Homo sapiens: one gene and its partners. The protein of the gene in region 2 purifies or fractionates together with the protein of the main gene of each other region. This does not show direct contact. Each region holds a gene or a part of one and is shown on either strand. Other genes may lie near its edges.

The links.
Region 1: the proteins of NUP50 (region 2) and PHF10 purify together in Homo sapiens (affinity purification with mass spectrometry; 4 studies listed by BioGRID and IntAct, with this or other methods). This does not show direct contact.
Region 3: the proteins of NUP50 (region 2) and NUP153 purify together in Homo sapiens (affinity purification with mass spectrometry; 10 studies listed by BioGRID and IntAct, with this or other methods). This does not show direct contact.

The regions. Positions count from the first base shown.
Region 1 is NC_000006.12:169,717,937-169,721,591, forward strand, and holds part of PHF10 (PHD finger protein 10), read right to left. Parts: intron 3,176-3,655; coding exon 3,069-3,175; intron 983-3,068; coding exon 852-982; intron 1-851. UniProt on the Homo sapiens protein: Involved in transcription activity regulation by chromatin remodeling. Belongs to the neural progenitors-specific chromatin remodeling complex (npBAF complex) and is required for the proliferation of neural progenitors.
Region 2 is NC_000022.11:45,170,384-45,174,038, reverse strand, and holds part of NUP50 (nuclear pore complex protein Nup50), read right to left. Parts: intron 3,052-3,655; exon of another isoform or gene 2,862-3,051; intron 2,440-2,861; coding exon 2,356-2,439; intron 1-2,355. UniProt on the Homo sapiens protein: Component of the nuclear pore complex that has a direct role in nuclear protein import. Actively displaces NLSs from importin-alpha, and facilitates disassembly of the importin-alpha:beta-cargo complex and importin recycling.
Region 3 is NC_000006.12:17,626,925-17,630,579, reverse strand, and holds part of NUP153 (nuclear pore complex protein Nup153), read left to right. Parts: intron 1-1,040; coding exon 1,041-1,925; intron 1,926-3,655. UniProt on the Homo sapiens protein: Component of the nuclear pore complex (NPC), a complex required for the trafficking across the nuclear envelope. Functions as a scaffolding element in the nuclear phase of the NPC essential for normal nucleocytoplasmic transport of proteins and mRNAs.

The DNA of each region.
Region 1 (3,655 bases), on a different chromosome or scaffold from region 2:
AACAGCAAAACCTTATGCACTTGTAAAACTTTTAAAAGCTTAAAAACCTTGACTTTTTAAAGTATTCATATTACATATTCCAAATATTATTAAAGGGGCTACAAAAAAATTTATAAATTCAAGAAATAAAACTCAGCAAGATACAAAAGTTAGAATAAAATAGGAAATAGAATAATCCAAAGCAAGAAGGTCATATAAATAACTATACTAAACTAGTTCATGAGGAATAGCCTTTCTCAAATTCAGATACGGCTCATATAGCTAACTCTATTCCTTAGATCAAGAAACAATGGTAAAAATCCCAAACTTGACTATAAAATGATTTTTTCTAAAATTTTCCTCAGGAAATTCACCTTTCCCATTTTGCTTTTAAATCAGTTTATGAGCCATAGAAAATATCAATAATGAAGAGTGATGCTGAATGATAGCAGTAAATGAAACACAGCCAGGCGTGGTGGCTCACACCTGTAATCCTAGCAATTCAGGAGGCTGAGGCAGCAGGATAGCTTGAAGCCATGAGTTTGAGACCACGCTGGGCAACATAGCAAGACTTCACATCTCTAAAAAAATAAAAATTAAAAAAATCTGCCACGCGTCGTGGTGCACACCTGTAGTCCCAGATACTTAGAAGGCTGAGGCAGGGAGACAGCTAGCCCAGGAGTGCAAGGCTGCAGTGAGCTATAATCGCACCAGTGCGCTCTAGCCTGGGTTACAGAATGAGACCCTTAGTCTTAAAAAAAAACAGCAAGCACAAGAATATAAAATATAATCTACAGAAAAATTCAGAAGTTGACAGTGTATCATAAAGAATTACTATCAATTATAAATTAATCTATTATATAAACTAGTACCTGGATATTTCCTTTTAAAGGAGGTCACACCCAAATATTCACTGACTTGTTCTTGAAGCATATAGTATTCTCCTGTTTCATCAGGTGGCCATTTGTACTCTATCAAGTTTTCTGCTGGATAGTAACTAAAACTAAGTACAGAAATACATATTATGCATTAAATGTAGCTTTCATTAATTTTTAATCACTTTTATTGAGGATATTTTGAAAACTATTTTAAGTATTTAAATTATTTGCCTCCTATGACTTGACTTCCTGTGTATCAAAGAAAATTACAAAACAGGTACAAGGAATAGAAATAATTATCTGGTCTACCAAGTCAAAAAGGTATGTGAAAATAACATCTTTTATACACTGGGAAGAACGTAGAATCACAATTGCTAAGAACGAAGGCATTTTTAGTTTAAAGGACCTATGAGGGCAAAGCAAGGTGATGATGGTATCAGCTCTGACTTCTTTCTCTTGGGCTTAAAATGCATAGCCAGTATTTCATCCACCCAAAGAATAATCAACTTCTGTCTCTTGTCTACTGTTCAGTGAGTCATAAATAGCTGAGAAAACAGAACTCTTAAAAACCTATTATCTCAGTGCATCATATCATAAACCGTAACTGTTTGTTCTCAGATACTCCACAAACCCAGAAGCAAAGAATGGACCTAGTTTGAAGGTGCCAGGGTATCACAGTCGATCTCCATCCTGAGTAACAGAGTACAGATTTCAGGATATGGGCCAATTCAACCTCTATATTGGACATGGGAAAGTGACACTATGTTATGCATCCATCTATTTAAAAAGTAACCTTCAAAAAGAACAGTGTTCTCAAAAATGGTGCTGGGAAACTGGGTATCCACATGCAAAAGTATAAAATTGGACCTTTACCTCATATCACAACTCAAAATGGATCAACAACCTAAATATAAGAGCTAACTAGAAAACTCTTAGAAGAAAACATAGAAATCTTTCACAACCTTGGATTTGAAGGTAGATTCTTACATATGACACCAAAAGCACAAGCAACAAAAGAAAAAATAGATGAAAAATTTGGGCTTCATCAAAATTAAAAATTTTGTACAGGGACACTATCAAGACAGTGAAAAGACAACCCACAGAACAGGAGAAAATATGTGTAAATCATATTTTTGATGAAGTATTAATATATAAAATATATTTAAAAAGCTCCTACAACAAAAAAAACCCCAAATAAAAAATGGACAAAGAACTTGAATAGACATGTCTCCAAAGAAGCTATACAAATGGCCAAGCAGATGAAAAGATGTTCAATATCAGTAGGCATTATGAAAATGCAAATCAAAATCACAATAAAATATCACTCCACACCTTTTAGGGTAACTATTATTTTAAAAAATGAAAAATAACAAATTGGTGAGAAATATGAAGAAACTGGAAACTGTGAATTGCTGGTAGGAATGTAAATTGGTGTGCAGCCCCTATGGAAAACAGTTTGGCAGCTTCTCAAAAAATTAAACATAGGATTACCATATAATCCAGCTACTCCACTCCTAGATAAACATCCAAAAAAACTGAAAACACAAACTCTGAACACCAATGCTCACTGCAGCATTATTCACCTTGGCCAGAAGGTGGAAACCCAAATGCCCATCAACATCTGAATGGATAAACAAAATCAGTATATACATAAAATGGAGTATTATTCAGCCTTAAAAACAGAAAAAAAGTCTGACATATGCTACAAAGATGAACCTTGAAGATATTCAAAGTTCTAAGAGAAATAAGCCAGCCACAAAAGGACAAATATTTTATGGTTCCACTTATATGAAGTAACTAAGTAGTCGTATTCACGGAAATAGAAAGTAGAATGATGGTTGCAAGGCGCTAAATAGAGGGAGAAAGGGAGGTTATTGCTTAATGGTTATAAAGTTTGGGGTAGTGAAAGTTTTGGAAATGGATGGTGGTAATGGCTGCACAACACTGTGAATGTAACTGATGCCAATGAATTTCACACTTAAAAATTGTTAAAATGATTAATTTTATGTATGTATGTATTTTACTATCATAAAATTGCTTTTTAATTACACTCAGTAGCAAGACCAACTTTGATGGCACATTATAGAACAGGAAGAAAATATTCTACAATTTTTAATAATTGCCTTTGCCAGAGCTGGGGGAAAGGGAAGAGGATGTTAAGGCAAAGAGGAACATCACAAAAAATATTAATAACCGATAAAATGACAGTACCCAAGATCTTGACTTGAAGTTTCACAACTCCTAGAACTATCTCCTGAGCCCATTCGCCTCCTTTTGGATGGCTGGGTCCCATCATTTGAATTATCTTCATTATCATCCTATACATTTAAAAGATTCAAAAATAATAATTAGAGAAAGAATAAAAGAACAGTAAGTCTCAATAAATGAAAGACTGTCTAAGGACAACTAGTCATACAAGTATTAACTTCATATTATAATTAAAAGGGTCCAAGAGTTTGGCATGAGCAAGACCTGGAATAAAATTTAAAACTGATCTTCAATCCAATCCAAATAAGAACATTTTCAATGAACCCGTAAATGCAAATCTGCTTTGGTTTCTGCTCTTCATAAACATATCAAACTGCTGCATCACTCTAGGATTAAAGCAAACTCTCCTACCCAAGCTCAGGGGGAAAAAAATGTATGGATCATTTACAGTTCTCAATTCAACTTGAAGCCGGTTCATAGGACTATTTTAATTGACTACTTTAGGCATTTATGTCCCTGTGAAAAGGGGACATATGAGACCGAAAACAATTCTAACTATTCACTCTTCCTCTTACACTGCTAAAATTTAG
Region 2 (3,655 bases):
TTTTGGTCTTTTTTACTCACCAATACATCTCCAGTGCTTAGCAGATCTACTGAATCCACTATTTAGGAAAAGCCGCATTTCAGCATTCTGGTGGGTGACATGACATTTAATTGTCCTAATATATGAAAACTTCAGGCTAAGAGTTACAGCTAAAATTATCTGTGGATTTCTATTATCCACCTACACTTAATTTCCCTTAGTTGCCCAAGGGCTCCTGCCCTCTCCTTCCCTCATCCCTTCAGCTTAAGTTGTAGATTATGGTCTGTACTATTTCTACCTCTTGAACTTCCTTCGGTTGCACAGGTGACTGCCCCTCCTTCAGAATGGCTTCCCTTGGCTTCTGCAGTGAGCTTTGTTTCTCACTCCTCGTAGGACCCTCCACCTGCATGCCTCCTGTCGCCCATTCCCATGGCCTCAATCCCCCACATGACGAAAGCTGCCGGAGCTGTGCCCATCCTTGCCATAATTCCTGTTGTATACCTAGTGGTCTTCCAGGGCACTCCACTTGAGTGTACCAAGGCCTTTCAAATACAGCATTTCCAAGACCAACCATTTCCTCCTTAATTAAACTGTCCCTCCCCCCATGTATCTTCCCAGTGAAAGAGCCATCAAATATCACTCAGCTCAACACCTACGTCTACCACCTAGTCACCAGTCAAGGCAATTCATAAAATCAAACCAGACAAAAAAAAAAAAAAAACACCTGAAGTTCAAGAGGTTTACTGTACAACAGGCAGGTAGAAATGTATTATGCATCTGAAAATAAGACCATGTTGTACACCATAAGTATATAATTTTTGTCAAATAAGAAATACAATTTTTAAGCAAAATATAATTAATTAATTACAAAACACAAGACCTAATCTCTAGCTTGGATCTGAGATATGCTTCCTCTGTACCTACTTCCTTTCTTGGCAGTGCAACCCGTTAACCTGAATTCTACATGAAAGAGCTTTTACAACGTCAGGAAATGAAGCTCCTCTCATGCATCTGAAGCATGCAATGGAGCAGAGAAAGAGCACACACTTATGACATTAGCCATGGCATCCTAAAGACGTTCAAGACTACCCAGAACCACCTGAGAATCGATTTCATGTAGGATTACGTATCTCTGCCTCGAATTACACTATATTGGTATATACAGTAATATATTTTAGGAAAATTGCGAATACTTTATTTTTATAATTTGAATTGTTTTCCCATTAACACATACCACCATTTATGAGACGCTCTGAGTGACTGGCTGTTGTAAACGTCTTACTGACTGCCTCCCCACCACTGCCACCTACCTGGCTCCCTTCCTTACGTTTTCAAACTTTAATACATTTTATGATCAAAACTTTGGCAATGTAATGAATATTTTTGTAATAACAATTTCTTTTCATTGCTTCTCAAAGTGTGAATGATACACCTTTCCTATCCTTTTTTTTTGGAAATAAAAGGGAAATAAGCTTGCATGTCCCTTAAGGAGAACGCTCAGGAAAGTAAGTATTTCCGCTCCCAGGAAGTCTGCATTATGCTTACTGGCACGGCACCTCTAACCTGACCATTTGAGATCCTCCAATGACTATTTCCTTGGAGCATCACGTTGGTGCTCAAAAAGCTTCAGATCTTGGAGCATTTTGGATTTCCAGATTAGAGACACCCAAGAATATAGTCTATTCTTGATGTTTTAAACACTGCAAAACGTGAGGTAGGGTAGGTTTATTTCAAAGCTGCCACCCAGGATATTCAAAGCGGCATCTCCTGCCTAACACCAGATGTCCAGGCCACCAAGACCACACTCTCCTGGGTCTAGAATGTATCTGAAGGGAGAGGATGTACTGGGGACGAGTTCTTAGATGCGGAGTGACTGCTTAATAATCAGCACATTATTTCAATTTAGGAGTTACAACTCATCTTCCATCCTTCTTAGCACAGGAATGAATCATTTTAATATACTATACTAGCAAAAAATCCACACCTAAAATGCCTCTAGTATAGTGAAAGGGCTCCCCCTACCAAGGCCTCAATCGCAGGGAGCAGACAAGACTCTCAGAAGATCCTTGCGTTTTCCTTTCTTCCTCCAATCTGATGCCACTTCGCCCACCTCTGTATTGCTTTGCTCATTTTTCTTCTCCAGATTGTCACTCAACTTGAATTTGTCTATATTTATCTTATTTCCTCAACTGGATAAGCTCTCTTTAAGGTCCAGACCTGACGTTTCTTATTTTTTTCTATCTCCCATGACCTACATCAAAGAATAAGTATTTTAAGAAAGCATTTGTTGATATCATTGCTCCCAGCGGAGGGATTGCTGTGCAACCCAGAAATCAAATGAGTATTTAATAGCAAGAGCTGTAAGGGGGCACTCACTTCAAATCCAACATTTCTGCGCTTTGCTTTCTTTATGGCTCTATTCTTCAAGACTTCCTCACTGGCCATGGAGAATGTTCCCACCTGCAATACAATACAAATTAAGCAGCAGTAAGATAAAGCCAAACAGATGACAAAATCCTCAACAACAACAACAAGCTAGAACTGAGCCACTGTGTCCGGCCTCTCAAAAATAAATTTTGGCCAGGCACAATGGCTTGCGCCTATAATACTAGCGCTTTGGGAGGCCAAAGGTCAGGAGTTTGAGACCAGTCTGGCCAACATGGTGAAACTCTGTCGCTACTAAAAATGAAAAATTAGCTGGGCATGGTGGTGGGCACCTGTAATCCCAGCCACCTGGGAGGCTGAGGCAGGAGAATCACTTGAACCCTCCGGGAGGTGGAGGTTGCAGTGAGCCGAGATAGCACCACTGCACTCCAGCCTGGGCAACAGAGCAAGACTGTCTCAAAAAAATAAATAAATAAATTTTGTTATTTATAACATACACATGATTTTTAAGATGAGTCCTGCCCAACTTGCCCACTGTACGAAAGGCCACGGAGGCACCTAGGACCTTGCTGGACAACCACTGCTCTTCCACAGTGCGCTCAAAGCACACTCATGTCCACACTTCTGATGTCCACGTCAGAAAGCTGCTGAATATCTTCGGCTTTAGTTTATAGCCCTTCTTTTACCCTGTAGGGTCGGAATAAAATATTTCTCATGCAAAAATTCTCACCTATAGTTGTTTCAGATCATATTAAACTTAACGGGCTCCTACACTCATAGAGGGGACCATCTGGCTGCACTTGCCCCAAGTTAAATGTACTTAACTAAATGTAATCTTTCCACACATTTCATTGGCATATGTTCGAATGGGAGTTCTTTCATTCCTGAATATTTTAATGTCTAAGCAAATAGTTACATGGTAATCTAGATGTTACTATAGCCCAGAATGTAACTGTGCTTAAGATCTTAAACCAACAACAACAAAAAACCAAAAACCCCCATAACCAAAGATTTTAGTTAAAAAGCACCAAATCAGTTTTGACCCTGTCAAAACACTCACATCCTTGGGATTCTGGTTTCCCTAAACATATGTGAGGAGATACACTTGTAGAGAAAAAAAGTACTAGTACCAGAAAGATTCCAAAAGAAGGAAGATGGCCGTCTAAGAATAAGCTTGGAAACAGTTGCAGTTTTAACATTTTTCTTTTTTCACTTAGCACTATGCTGTTAACCTGAAAGTCGTGGTTACAGATTTCCTTAGTCATCTGGCCTGGGGGTAACACACTGCTGA
Region 3 (3,655 bases), on a different chromosome or scaffold from region 2:
GCAATTCTCCTGCCTCAGCCTCTCAAGCAGCTGAGACTACAGGCACAGACCACCATGCCTGGCTGATTTTTTTTGTATTTTTAGTAGAGATGGGGTTTCGCCATGTTGGCCAGGCTGGTCTTGAACTCCTGACCTCGGGTGATCTGCCCGCCTTGGCCTCCCAAAGTGCTGGGATTCCAAGCGTGAGCTACCACGCCCAGTCTGATGTTTAACTTTATAAACATTGCTTCAACTCTGTAATTCTTCTGTTTTTCTGTTGCCTTCCTTTTTTAAATGCTTGAGTGAATAACACATTTATTCACAAGATTTAAAAATCAAGAAATTGTGACAAGGTTCAATCTCTTCTCTCCATTGTCTCTTTTTCCACCTTCCCTCCCACTTCCAAATGTAACTGTGGTTAGTTTCTTGTAAATCTTTCAAAGTTTCTTTATGCCCATCCAAGGCAAACATACATACCCCTATATATTCTTACTTCCTTTTACCTTGTTAGAAAAGTCTGTATACCGCACTCCCTTTCTGCCCCTTTGATTTTATCAGGGATTATCTTGGACACATCTTTGTTCTTCCTTCTTCGTTTATAGCTGCCTGGATTGCATATGGCATTTTGCATGTCTATGAGTTTATCTTTAAAACAAACTCCAGCTATAGAATTGCAAGGTCAAAGGGTATATGCATTTGTAATTTTCGGTAACTATTGACAGATTGCTCTCTATGAGTTTTGTGTTCATTTATACACCCACCTGCAATGTGTAGCCTGTTACTTCCAGTCTCATCACTAGTACAAACTTTATCAAACTTTATCGCAGCCAGTCTGATAAATGAAAAGTGGCTTGTCAGGATAGTTGTGAGGATTGAGATATCATTCTCATACCGACTAAATATAGGTCACCTTGGATTATGTTTACAGCTGCTGGTAATACTCTTCAAAGTAGGCCCTTTCAAAGTTACTCCTATGTTTCTTTGGCTTTCACAGTGTTTACATTTTGTTTGAGAGGATCAGTACATTGAGTGTCTATGTGGTGTCTTTTATATTTTTGTAGGCTTTGACACATCTTCCTCATCTTCGAACTCAGCAGCCTCCTCATCCTTCAAATTTGGTGTCTCATCATCCTCTTCTGGGCCTTCTCAGACTTTAACAAGCACTGGAAATTTTAAATTTGGAGATCAGGGAGGATTCAAAATAGGTGTGTCATCCGATTCTGGGTCTATAAACCCCATGAGTGAAGGCTTTAAATTTTCTAAACCAATAGGAGATTTTAAATTTGGAGTTTCATCTGAATCTAAGCCCGAAGAAGTTAAAAAAGATAGTAAGAATGATAATTTTAAGTTTGGACTTTCTTCTGGTTTAAGCAACCCAGTTTCTTTAACTCCATTTCAATTTGGGGTATCTAATCTTGGACAGGAAGAAAAGAAAGAGGAACTGCCCAAATCTTCCTCTGCAGGTTTTAGCTTTGGTACAGGTGTTATTAACTCCACCCCTGCTCCTGCTAACACCATAGTGACCTCTGAGAACAAGAGCAGCTTCAACCTTGGAACCATAGAAACCAAGAGTGCTTCAGTGGCTCCTTTCACATGTAAGACATCAGAAGCTAAAAAAGAAGAAATGCCTGCCACCAAAGGAGGATTCTCTTTTGGCAACGTGGAGCCTGCCTCTCTGCCATCTGCCTCAGTGTTTGTTTTGGGAAGGACAGAAGAGAAACAGCAAGAGCCTGTCACTTCTACTTCCCTAGTTTTTGGGAAGAAAGCTGACAATGAAGAGCCAAAGTGTCAACCAGTGTTTTCCTTTGGGAATTCAGAGCAAACCAAAGATGAGAATTCTTCAAAGTCCACATTTAGTTTTAGTATGACAAAACCATCTGAGAAGGAATCTGAACAGCCAGCAAAAGCCACTTTTGCCTTTGGAGCTCAAACTAGTACTACAGCTGGTAAGTATTAACTTTTTATTATTATTATTATTATTTTTTTTTTTACAAGTTGTCGTTTTACAAGTTGCCTTGACAGATGCAGCAAGTCAATTAATGGTTTACACTGAACATAGTTGAGAAATACAGAACTCTTTGGGAAGGAACCTAGGATTTTCAGTTTGAACTGCTCTTTAAAACCCTCATGATTCTGGTGAAGTCATCTGTGGATCTAATTTTGAGAAATACAGCAGTAATGCAAAGCTCAATATAGTGCATATTTATGTGTGTCTTTCTCTTCTGTTTGGGCTTTTATAATCAGAATTGGTATCTACTACCTGGAAAATAAGGATTCTTAGCTTATGAAGTATTTTCTACCATAATCTATGGGAAGGCCTTTATTTACAAATAGTTACAGATAACCAGTCCTCATCAAACATTAAGAAACATAGACAACAAATATAATTAATCCTGAGAAAACAAGAGATTTTGAAAGCTGAAGTCCTGGGGAAAAAAATGACATAGCACCTTAAAGGTTAAAAGCATGATTGTTGGTGGATCCTATTAAAGTCATTCTGTGAGCTGAATAGCAGGAAGAACTTCATAGCTGATAATCAGATTAGTGAACTAGAATTTCCCCAAACTTAGTGCACCAGTACAAAGAGTGATCCAAGTTAGATCCACAAGTTCCTTTGGGATAGGAGTGGCCTAGAAGATAAGAAGTTTTGGGGAAATATCAAAGAAGTGACAGAAGAAAATTTTCTAGATCTAAAGAAAGACATTGGTCTTAAAAATGGAAATTACCTATTGGCAAAGATCACTGAAATTTAGGACACCAAAGCTAAAACCCCAAATGCTTTCAGAGAGAAAAGCTATTTGCCACAAATAGGCAGGTATCAGATTAGCATCATCTTCTAATTTGTAACATCACATGCTAAAAACAACAGTGCCCTTAAAGTGAAAATGTTCTTGAACCTAGAATTCTGTTACTAGCCAAATGTGTTTAAATATAAAGACAATCCGGGTGCCGTAGCTCACACCTATAATCCCAACTAGTCGGGAGGCTGAAGCACAAGAATCTCTTGAACCTGGGAGGCGGAGGTGGCAGTGAGCAGAGATTGGCCCAGTGCACTCCAGCTTGGGCAACAGAACAAGGCTCTGTCTCAAGAAAACCCAACAACAACAAAAAAACACCAACACAAAGGCAAAATACAGATGTTTTTAGATGTGCAAAAAATGCAAAAGTTGAATATCCATGAATACTTTTGAATAATAAATTGGAAACACTCAAAATTAACCTTTAAAAAGTATGGAATTCAACAAATAGCTATGAGCAGTTTTTTGTCTGTTATATATTTACTTAGAAATATAAAGACAAAATCAAAACTAAAATTACATATTATTTGGAAAGCAACAAAAACATGATAGGGTCTAATCAGATTTGATGATGAAAACACCAGGCTATGGTAGACACTCTTAACCATTCTTCCATTAGCCAGGTTGAAAGTAAGCCAACATGTTCCATTTTCTGTAAGTCATACTAATGCCCATAGTGTACTGTGACCAGCCCTGGATAGTGTGCGGTATTGGAACTGAGAGATTATTGGAATAGTTTAGAAAAAAATCTTCAATAAGGTGGCTGGATTCAGAATCACCATATAAAAATCAAAAGTTTTTCTTCAAATCAGCATGTCTCATTTGTTTTTCCTAACATTTCTAACTTGTATTTTATAAAAGCAGCAGAACTTGTAACA